Linked DNA regions of Homo sapiens. The protein of the gene in region 1 purifies or fractionates together with the protein of each later gene. This does not show direct contact. Each region holds a gene or a part of one and is shown in the gene's direction. Other genes may lie near its edges.

Evidence for each region.
Region 2: the proteins of GHITM (region 1) and CTH purify together in Homo sapiens (affinity purification with mass spectrometry; 2 studies listed by BioGRID and IntAct, with this or other methods). This does not show direct contact.
Region 3: the proteins of GHITM (region 1) and ANKLE2 purify together in Homo sapiens (affinity purification with mass spectrometry; 2 studies listed by BioGRID and IntAct, with this or other methods). This does not show direct contact.

What each region holds. Positions count from the first base shown.
Region 1 is NC_000010.11:84,145,887-84,149,542, forward strand, and holds part of GHITM (growth hormone-inducible transmembrane protein), read left to right. Parts: intron 1-2,843; coding exon 2,844-2,952; intron 2,953-3,656. UniProt on the Homo sapiens protein: Plays an important role in maintenance of mitochondrial morphology and in mediating either calcium or potassium/proton antiport. Mediates proton-dependent calcium efflux from mitochondrion.
Region 2 is NC_000001.11:70,421,114-70,424,769, forward strand, and holds part of CTH (cystathionine gamma-lyase), read left to right. Parts: intron 1-452; coding exon 453-562; intron 563-2,020; exon of another isoform or gene 2,021-2,159; intron 2,160-3,171; coding exon 3,172-3,303; intron 3,304-3,656. UniProt on the Homo sapiens protein: Catalyzes the last step in the trans-sulfuration pathway from L-methionine to L-cysteine in a pyridoxal-5'-phosphate (PLP)-dependent manner, which consists on cleaving the L,L-cystathionine molecule into L-cysteine, ammonia and 2-oxobutanoate.
Region 3 is NC_000012.12:132,724,910-132,727,980, reverse strand, and holds the end of ANKLE2 (ankyrin repeat and LEM domain-containing protein 2), read left to right. Parts: intron 1-537; coding exon 538-739; 3' UTR 740-2,478; downstream 2,479-3,071. UniProt on the Homo sapiens protein: Involved in mitotic nuclear envelope reassembly by promoting dephosphorylation of BAF/BANF1 during mitotic exit.

The sequences.
Region 1 (3,656 bases):
CTCATTTATTTTAGAAGTAGACAAGAGGGCCAGGTGCAGTGGCTCACACCTGTAATCTCAGCGTTTTAGGAGGCTGAGGCAGGAAGATTGCTTGAGCCCAGGAATTTGAGACCAACCTGAGCAACATAGTGAGACACTGTCTGTAATTTTTAAAGAAATAGAAAATTTTAAAAATTAAAAAAAAATTTTTTTAAGTAGACAAGGGCGGTCCAATTTTACCAAACAGTTTAAGGGAAGAGGAGGTAGGAAAACCTAATTTCAGAGGTGACTTACAATCCCATTAGAGGGAAATTCAAGTGTTTGAGGTCTGGAGGGTAAAGAAGACGTGGTTAGAAAGGATACAGTTGTCAAGCTGAGGAGAGAACCTAAGCAGTCGGAGGCCATTGGAGATACTGGAACAACAAAAGCGTGATTTATATTTGAGTTTTTAGAACCAATGTGGAAGAGACATGGAGCAGGTGTACCAGCTGTGCCTTTGTAAGATCTGAAATGAGGGATGATAAGAACCTGAACTAGAGCAGAGTGTGATACTGGAGGGGAAGGAGAGTTCATGTAACACTGATTCCCCACATAGGGACGAAAACCATATTATTTTCACTGTGTTGTACTTTACTAAAGGATAACCATTTACAGTAGCAGCCATTTGGATATTTATATATTCTTAGGATCATGCTTTTTCACATAGACGTCATGAATCTCCCAGCCCAGAGGTTCACAAAGGCACAGAATGTTTCACTGGGGATGTCAGTTTTAATCAGAAGCAAATAATTTAAAACAATACTTTTGTAATAAACATGACAATATTTACCTAAAATTTTAGGCCCTAAAATGAGGCTTCAAAGAAGTTTTGTGTTTGGGCCATATCCTCAGTCCCTTCTGGGCAAAAGATTACCCTCTTCCACTGTTAGTAATACAGAAAATAGGAAAGCCAAAGACAAGTGTTACAGAGATGAAGATGTAACCTTTTGGGTGTGACAGACATATATATACAAACACACACATAGACACACAGATAATGTCAAAGTTTGTCCCAAGTGCATCTGAGGAGAGGTATCTGATCTTGCTCTTGGGCAGCCAGGGTACCTACTAGAAAAAGCTTTTGAGATGAGACAGTACCAGAGTAAGTCGACCAGATATGGAAGGAGATATTCTTAGGCATGATGGATTGAATTAAGGAGGCCTGAAATTTTGGGGCATGTTGGCAGCTGTGCCAGTTCCGTATGGTTGGAATGCAGAGTTTGGAGTGAGACTGGATCATAGAAGATCTTAAAAAAATTTAATTGCTGCTGTCCACAGAGGATGTGTGAAATAGTTTGTAGTAATTATTTCTCGTTAGAAAATGGTGGAGTGGAGCTCGATATGCTTTTCTTTTCTTTTTAATGTTTTTTAAAAATAGAGACTAGATCTCTATGTTTGCCTAGGCTTGGCTTAAATTCCCAGGCTCAAGTGGTCCTTTCACCTCAGCCACCCAAGTAACTGACATTACAGGTCCATACCACTACACCCAGCTCAGTATGCTTTTTCATGTTAAGGTTTTCCCATTCTTGGCAAAACCAGCTATTTGGTTTACCTGTACTTTATATTAGAGGTTGAATATTTTGATGTTCATAGGTGAGACAGATAATACAGATGAGTGAGGAGGCCTAGTGTGTCACACAGGAGATTGTTGACATCTAGAGGTTACTGACATCTAGAGTTAACCTTTTCAACTAAAACCATTCACCATGTTCTTTTTTTTTGTTTGTTTTTTTAAACATAGTTTGCCAAACAAAACATCTGTGGCCTGATTCCAAGGGCTACAAGTTTGCAATCTCTGATTTAAATTTCTTGGAGATTAGCACCATCTTATTTCCATTACATGTTAATACATTCTTCTTGTCATACACAAGCAATATTTAATTATAACACTGGAAATCTAAGATAGGCAAAGAAAAGGAATGAGGACCAAATTAGCCATAAACCTGGAAGGGTAGAAGTGTAGAATCTTATTTCTCATTTTTCTTTTCCATGTGCTGTGATAATCTACTTTCTATTTTTCAAGTCTTCATTTAGCAAATATGGAGTTCAAAGTGATGTGCTATATATATTTTTTTTAAAAATTACTAATTTGTAAGCATCACTGATTTTAAAGAAAATGCTATTTGTGCTATACAAAAATATATTTTTTAATTAAGAGTTAATTATCTTGGGATCCCTAAAGGGTTTTTGTTTCACCTCTGTCCAACAAGAGTAAAATTGTTAAAAGATGTGTTGCCAGTTCAAGCTTAAGACATGCATTTGAAGCTGTCTGCAAAACCTCATATATGGCAGTAGGGGGCACTCGTGCTAACTTAGCCAAAACTCTGAAATAAACCCAGAGCTTTTAATGTGCCAGAAAAATTAAAGTTTTTATTTTTTATTTTTTATTTTTTATTTTTTTATTTTGAGATGGAGTCTCGCTCTGTCACCCAGGCTAGAGTGCAGTGGCACGATCTTGCCTCATTGCAACCTCCACCTCCCGGGTTCAAGTGATTTTCCCACCTCACTCAGCCTCCCAAGTAGCTGGGACTACAGGCGCGCACCACTGCGCCTGGCTAATTTTTGTATTTGTAGTAGAGACAGGGTTTCACCAGTTAGCCAGGCTGGTCTCAAACTTCTGACCTCAGGTGATCCACCTGCCCCAGCCTCCCAAAGTGCTGGGATTGCAGGCGTGAGCCACCACGCCTGGCCTTAAGCTTTGATTTATTATCTTTAATATTTTTACAACTAGTTTATTAGAAGTAACTAATTGTACTTCAAACCTGTGGGTTTCTGCTTTGTTTTCATATAAAGATCAGTTTTTCTTAATAGTACTTGTCTTTCAGACAATTGGTGTGACCTTTGCAGCCATGGTTGGAGCTGGAATGCTGGTACGATCAATACCATATGACCAGAGCCCAGGCCCAAAGCATCTTGCTTGGTTGCTACATTCTGGTATGTTCTGTTTTAAATTGTTACGAGACAACCTTGACTACCACCTTTTTTGGGTGGCTCTTCACAGTTGTAAATGACCTACATGGAATTTAAGCCTCATGTTTAGAAAACACCATTTTCTTCAGTCATTACTGGCTGCATTATTGCCAGACCTTTGCTTTGAAAAGTTGATTTTGCTAAGACCATGGACATCTTCAATACGAAACTTGTATCTTCTGACAGTCTAGTATATGCAGAGATTTACTTTTGTGTATTTTGTTCGATACCAGGAGGGTTTTATATCTAGTACGCATCATTTGAGAGTTGTTTTTGTCTGGTATGTTTAGAAAAATTAAAAACTGAGGATAGAGAAAGTTGTGCTAAAAATGTTGCTGCGAAATAACAAAAAACTGAGAGGAGTCCTAATAGAAGTGTTCTGTGTAGAAATTTCACCCACTGTTTTGCCTAGAGCAAAAAGTATTTTTAAATTATTCATCATCATGAGATAGTATACCTTATTAACCATATAACTTGATCTAGAAATGTTATTCTTTAAGCTAGTATTGAAAATTCAGTATAAAGATAGCTTTGTGCCTAGTCTATGAGGTAAACGACATTTAAGAAAAAGGTAACTTATTCTTCTTAGCACTGAAATAATGCATTATCTAAGTTTTTTTTCAATTAAGGAGTTCCATTTACCTTTGTTGAATTACTGGTAAATTTTT
Region 2 (3,656 bases), on another chromosome or scaffold:
AACTACATAACAAAAAGATCAAAAAAGTACAAAGAATAGTAACCAATTCTTTTCCATTACAAAGTATATTGAAATTTATTTTGAACCTTTCATTGACATTGATTCATTTAGTTTAGAGTTGAGAACTAGGTAGAAATTGTTTGAAAAGATATGATGTTTCAGGAAGCATGTCACTTAGTGGAGATTGGATGTTTTGAAAAACATTATTTGCTTCATGCTACTTTTGGATCTCAAGTGTGTTTTATTTGACTCTTGAGCCTTTAGAGAACAAACCTTATTATTCTTTACTATATCAGATAGCCAAACTATTTAACCAAACTAGAATTGCTTTTAGTTGCATTTTCCTTGGTGACTGAGAGTTCCATATATTTTGTAAGTGTTTATACATAGAAGGAATGAATGTTTCTTAATGCAATGTTCTTTTCATTTTATCTGATTCCCTTCTGTCTCAGGTACAAACAGGTACTTCAGGCAAGTGGCATCTGAATTTGGATTAAAGATTTCTTTTGTTGATTGTTCCAAAATCAAATTACTAGAGGCAGCAATTACACCAGAAACCAAGGTAACTCAGCTCATTTTCAGTTTTGCCTGTTTTTCCTTCGATGTTTTGTTTTCATCATTTCTGTTTACTAGAGGATATAATTTAATGTGAATAACAAATTTTATTTTATGCCATTGGAAACATCAACAAAATTAAGATAGACTGTCATCTCCGGGGTGTTATAGCATAATGGTAGTACATGATTTCTGGAGTAGAATTCAAATTGTGATTCTGTTATCTTAGTTAGTATATTATCTTGGGCAAATTATTTAACCAAAGTCTCAGTTTCTTCATTTGCAAAATGGAGATAATTATACCGGTTTTATAGAAACGGGAGTGTGAGAATCAAATGAGATAATGAATATGAAATGCTTAGTATAGTTCCTGGATACATGGTAATTGTTAAAAAAATTTCTATGCAGGAGCACCTAATTTTTAACTGCATAGCCAAAAGAGTATTGGTAACAGAAGTCATCACAGAGATTGGACTATAGAAAAAGAAGCCTGCCAAACCCCCAAACTCGAAGCACAGTGGCTTTGCCGGGCTGTAAGGGATGCTGCCCAGATACTAGTTAGATGTGGAGAATAGGCCACAAGCAATCTTTAGCTTCCATCCTGGGAAATTTGTATGCCACCGGAAGGTGTTTTGTGTCTGAGTGAATGGCATATGTGATATTCTTTCTTGGGACCTTATTTAAATTCTGTGTGGATAAAAGAAGGACCAGTGTCTTTTATAAGTCAGCTGTTTACAACTTTTTGCTAATGATTAAAAGGTTAGAATTGTACCCAAGATTATGTTGCAATGAATGCTAAAAAATAAATATCTTTTCATGTACAAATAATTACTTTGCACATTAACATGGTTGAGCTTTTGGTAATTAAGGTTTGTTTCCAGAAGAACTTGTTTTTTATCTTGCTTGGGAGAAAAGTCACATTAAAATAGCTGGTCTGAGTCTTTTTTTTTTTTTTTTTTTTGAGACGGAGTCTCACCCTGTCACCCAGGCTGTAGTGCAATGGCGCAATCCCAGCTCACTGCAAGCTCTGCCTCTTGGGTTCAAATGATTCTCCTGCCTCAGCCTACCGAGTAGCTGGGATTACAGGCGCCCATCACCATGCTCAGCTAATTTTTGTATTTTTAGTAGAGATGGGGTTTCACCTTGTTGGCCAGGCTGATCTTGAACTCCTGACCTTGTGATCCGCCTGCCTCAGCCTCCCAAAGTGCTGCGATTACAGGCATGAGCCACCGTGCCGGGCCCTGGTCTGAATCTTTCTAAGGGAGGAAAGCAAATTATGAGTACAGTAAGTCTTGTCAACAGAATTTTATATAGTGACTCTACCAACTTGAATTAATACCTTTTCCTTCCTAAAATATCAGGTTTTTCACTTGAAGTAGAATGTTTAAGTCCATGTAAAACCTACTTTTTATTTATTTGGTAATTTTTATTTTTTTTATTATCAGTAGGAATAATAAATTCTTACCAGGAATAATTTTTATAGATTCTTTAAATAATTCAAGATTTTTGTAGAATATGTATTATTTAACCATCTTATCTTTTCCAGAGTAAAACTCTAAAGTCAGAAGAGTTTAAACCAGATCTCTTGCCCATTTAAATAACAGGTAATAAAAAAAGAATCAGCTGGGCACAGTGGCTCATGCCTGTAATACCAGCACTTTGGGAGGCTGAGGCAGGAGGATCACTTGAACCAGGAGTTCAAGATATATAGCGAGACCCTTTCTCTGCAAAAAAAAAAAAATAATAATAATAATTGGCCGAGCATGGTGGCACATGCCTGTAGTTCCAACTACTGGAGAGGCTGAGGTAGGAGGATCACTTGGGCCTGAAAGGTCGAAGCTGCCGTTAGCTGTGATCATGCCACTGCACTCTAGCCTGGGCAACAAAGTGAGACCCTGCTGCTTAAAAAAAAAAAAGAAAGTAATTCAGTACAATGGCATTTCGTTCAACAAATAGAATTCTTTTCTTTGGTCTTTTTGATAACTATCAAGCATCTACCATGTGTCTGAATTGTGGTAGGTTTTGAGATATAAAGGTCATTGTTACTTTTTAAGTAGGCGGTAACCACGTTTTCTGTTGTGGGTGTCACTTTTCTTCTTTAGTCTAAAGCCCATGCTCTTCAAGTCTTAGATACTTATTCTATAGTTTCTAGAGTTTCTGGCATTAAGTTCATATTAAATATATTTTTGGCATCATAGGGATAATTCTCTTTCATTAAAATTCTAGGATGTATTCTTACACAATCTATGTTATTCATCTCTGAGACAAAATTTCCAGACACTGAGCTGTCTTTGGAATACACTTTCTTTTTTAAGAAAAGTACAATAATTAACTTTAGTACTTTTCTGTTTACATGTACGTTATCTCACTTGATCTTTACAAAAAATTCTGTAAGATAGGTATTACCAACCCAATTATACAGATCAATAGGATACATTACATACCTACGGCTTCAGAAATTTGCAGGTAAGGCTGGGATTCAGATTTGAACCTCCCAACATCATCATCCATGTGTTTCCATTATACAATGTAGCTTCCCAGATTGTTACAATATATGAGATGTATGTTTGTAAAGTATATTTTTACAAACTACTGTTATTTGCTGAATTATTTTAGCTTGTTTGGATCGAAACCCCCACAAACCCCACCCAGAAGGTGATTGACATTGAAGGCTGTGCACATATTGTCCATAAGCATGGAGACATTATTTTGGTCGTGGATAACACTTTTATGTCACCATATTTCCAGGTAAATGAAAATAATTTTTTTTGGCACAATTAGTAGACCACATATATCTGTAATTAGGAAAGAAAGGACTTGCTTAAATTAAAATCATGATCAAATTCATGAAATCTAATCATAATTAATTATTTACTGGATCGAGAATTAAATTTGGACCTCTTCTACCATTAGTTAATATCTTTTCAAACCTATGTTAATATCCTCTATGTTACTTTGTGTTTTTTATTTATTAAAGCTTACCAGTTCTCAGGGCTGTGCGTGGTGGCTCACGCCTGTAATCCCAGCACTTTGGGAGGCCGAGGCGGGCGGATCAGGAGATCAGGGATCAAGACCATGGTGAAACCCCGTCTCTACTAAAA
Region 3 (3,071 bases), on another chromosome or scaffold:
CTGCAGGGTCCAGTTCCACTTCATGCGAACCTATCAGTGGCTTTTCCCAACGCTGGCAGGCCCGTCAGCCAGGCTGTGGATTTGGGTGTTGTGGCTCTCTGCACACAGGACAGAGCTCTGGTTGGGTGGAAAAGCTGAACGGGTCAGCTCCTGACAAGCTGAGGGCTAGAAGGGTGGAAGCAGCAGGGTTTCTACTCAGATCACACAGGATTCTCCGGGAAACCCCCATGAGCTTGACTCTCCCAGTGCCCGCGGTGCCAGGGTTCAGCAGTGCCTCTCCTCCACCCAGACGCATGTGCCCACGGTGCCAGGGTTCAGCAGTGTGTCTCCTCCGCCCGGGCGCGTGTGCCCGCGGTGCCAGGGTTCAGCAGTGCGTCTCTTCCACCCGGGCGTGTGTGCCCGCGGTGCCAGGGTTCACCAGTGCCTCTCCTCCGCCCGGGCGCATGTGCCTGAGTCTGGGGCCATTATTCTCCGACTTTTGCTGTTCATCTCCGGGCCTGTGCCCGTCTGCTAACAGTTCTTTCTTGCTTTCCGCAGTTGGCCCAGTCCCGCGGTGAAAGGAAGGTTCAAGTCTCAGCTGCCAGATCTCAGTGGCCCTCACAGCTACAGTCCGGGGAGAAACAGCGTGGCTGGAAGCAACCCCGCAAAGCCAGGCCTGGGCAGTCCTGGGCGCTACAGCCCCGTGCACGGGAGCCAGCTCCGCAGGATGGCGCGCCTGGCTGAGCTTGCCGCCCTGTAGGCTTGGCGCTGGGCTCTCGGTTTGTTCTTCATTTTTAAAGAAGGAAGGGTCATATGTTTATTGCTAAACTGTCAAAAAGGAATATATTCTGATTAAATTATTACTCCTCACTTTGAGGGTGTGAGAATTTTAGAAGATTTAAATGTTCTATATAACACTTAGATTTCTGATATTTTGGAAGAAGTTAGAAGTTAATGAAAGCAAACTCAGTTACCAATTTTCTGGAAAATATCCATGTGGTAATGGTAGACTTTTTAGGTGGCAATTTCTAGGTCTGAAATATAGCAGAGGAAAGGGCGCTGAGGCAGTTGCAGGCAGGCAGCCCTGTACTTACCCTGTACTCACCTCATCCGACAGACGCTGTGGATGAGGAGGGGCTTGGCGGAGGCGTGAGCACCGATGTCCCTTTGATAACCTGCACTCACCAAGATGAACTATTTGCCGCCCTGTCTTTTCCTGGGTTGGGGGGTGGCATCTGATGGTGGCAGAGTGCCTGTTGGTTCGCCCGTGGGTCTCATGGTTCAGACAGAGGGAGGTGGACGGCAGGGATCAGGGAGCCAGGAGCGCGCCTCAGACTTGCAGCAACCATTGTGATTTGGGTTGTTCGGAATATTTAAATTACTGATCAGAAGATGAAAGTAGCTTTTCTCTTGGGAAGTCTTGCAGCCCGTGGGAGTGATACCAGGAGCAACACAGAGCTCAGCAGCGGCGCCAAGGTGTTCCCTGTTTCCTCAGCACGTGAGCCTTCACCGCCTGCTTCATTCAGGAGCCAGTGCAGCAGTAATACAGTCTATACATTGTTCTGTTTTCAAATTTATCCTGAGGCTTTGTTGAGCATAAATGATTATACGATAAAGGTATCCGTTATTTTGGAACTCATTTCAGTTGGGATCTCCTGTATGCAGAGTGTTGCATTTAGAGGTTTGAGTCCCATCTTGGTTTCTTGCCGTGCTGACTGTAGCCTTCACCTTGACTTGAATGAAGGTCTGTGGTTGGAATGTGTGAGGAGCCGCTGAGGTGTTCAGGAGGTGCTGCCTGGAGGTCGGTTTCTTCCTGGGTGTTACGGGCAACTGCTCACACAGTTGTTTCTCTGTGAACATTTCCAGTGTTTAATCCAAAATGAAAACCCACCAATGCTTTTGCTAACTTCAGTGCCTTTTATAAATCATTTTTAAATTTCCTGAACTTGCTTTTTGAGGATATACAGGGATATTAAGTAGACGCAGGATTGTTTTTGTTTGTAAAAATTCTGAATTGAAACTTTGTTTTAAAAAAAGGCTTCTTTCTTTCATATGACAAGAGATAGGTCAGGAATATTGGAATCAAGATTTAAATGTTAAAATTCGATTTTGTTACACAGGGTGTGTTCATTTGTTTTGTAGCAGACAAGATCTAGATCCCAGACAGAAACAACACATGCTATTCTAAAAAGCCGCATTTTAAAAGGCACCTTGGTTCTCAAAAGAAATCAGAATATGGATATTCGTAGTGATGATCTGTTTTCTCTAAAATCTTACCATATTGTCTGTATATGGTTGTAAATTCAAATGGAAAGTAAAACGTTTTGGCCCTGATTTTGTATGTGGACCACTGCTCCTGATTTCCCAGGTCTTAGGCCACCTTTGACTGTTTCTCCGTTTGTTTGTGGGCAGCGATTCCAGTCCCAACGGAGGCATTCTCGTGTGTCCCGGGGGGTTATGTCCTTCACAAAACACTTAATGAAATGAATTACTTCAAAACCGCGTGGTAATAATTGCAAGCTTTCGGAAGGATCCCTCACTTGTGCCCAGGCGCACGGCACTGTTTTGGTTGGACGGCCATCAACCTGGGTGCCCTCAGATTCGCTCGCTGTTTTTAAGCCCCTTTCTTGACTCAGTTGTGAAAGATTTTCTGGCATCCGTTAAAAGAGCACAGATTTTACCGTTGCTCTTGGCAGTGGGAAACCTTGGTGACATTAACAGTTGCTGTGGTGGCTTTGGTTGGAAAGTGCCCTTCTCCAGCGTGGTGGCAGCTGTGAGGGAGGCGCCCGGTGAGTCTGCTGCTCGTTTCTGGGTAAAAGCAGCCATGGTGCTGCGTACCAGCCGTGGGAGTGCCAGCGGCGCCATGGCAGGGACCACAGCCAGGTCCTCCAGAGCCGTGTGGATGTTTCCAGAAGCCTGCAGAGTTTTCCCAGGGAAGGGCTGATGGAAACCCTCATTGGGGCCCGGCTGTGCGTGCGGGGTGCAGGCGTGTTTGTCGTGGTTGGAAACCCTGTGACTGCTCCAGCTGCAGATTCCCGCCCGTGCTCCCTCCTTAGAAAAGGCTTTGGGATAAACGTCGGCATGGCGACCCC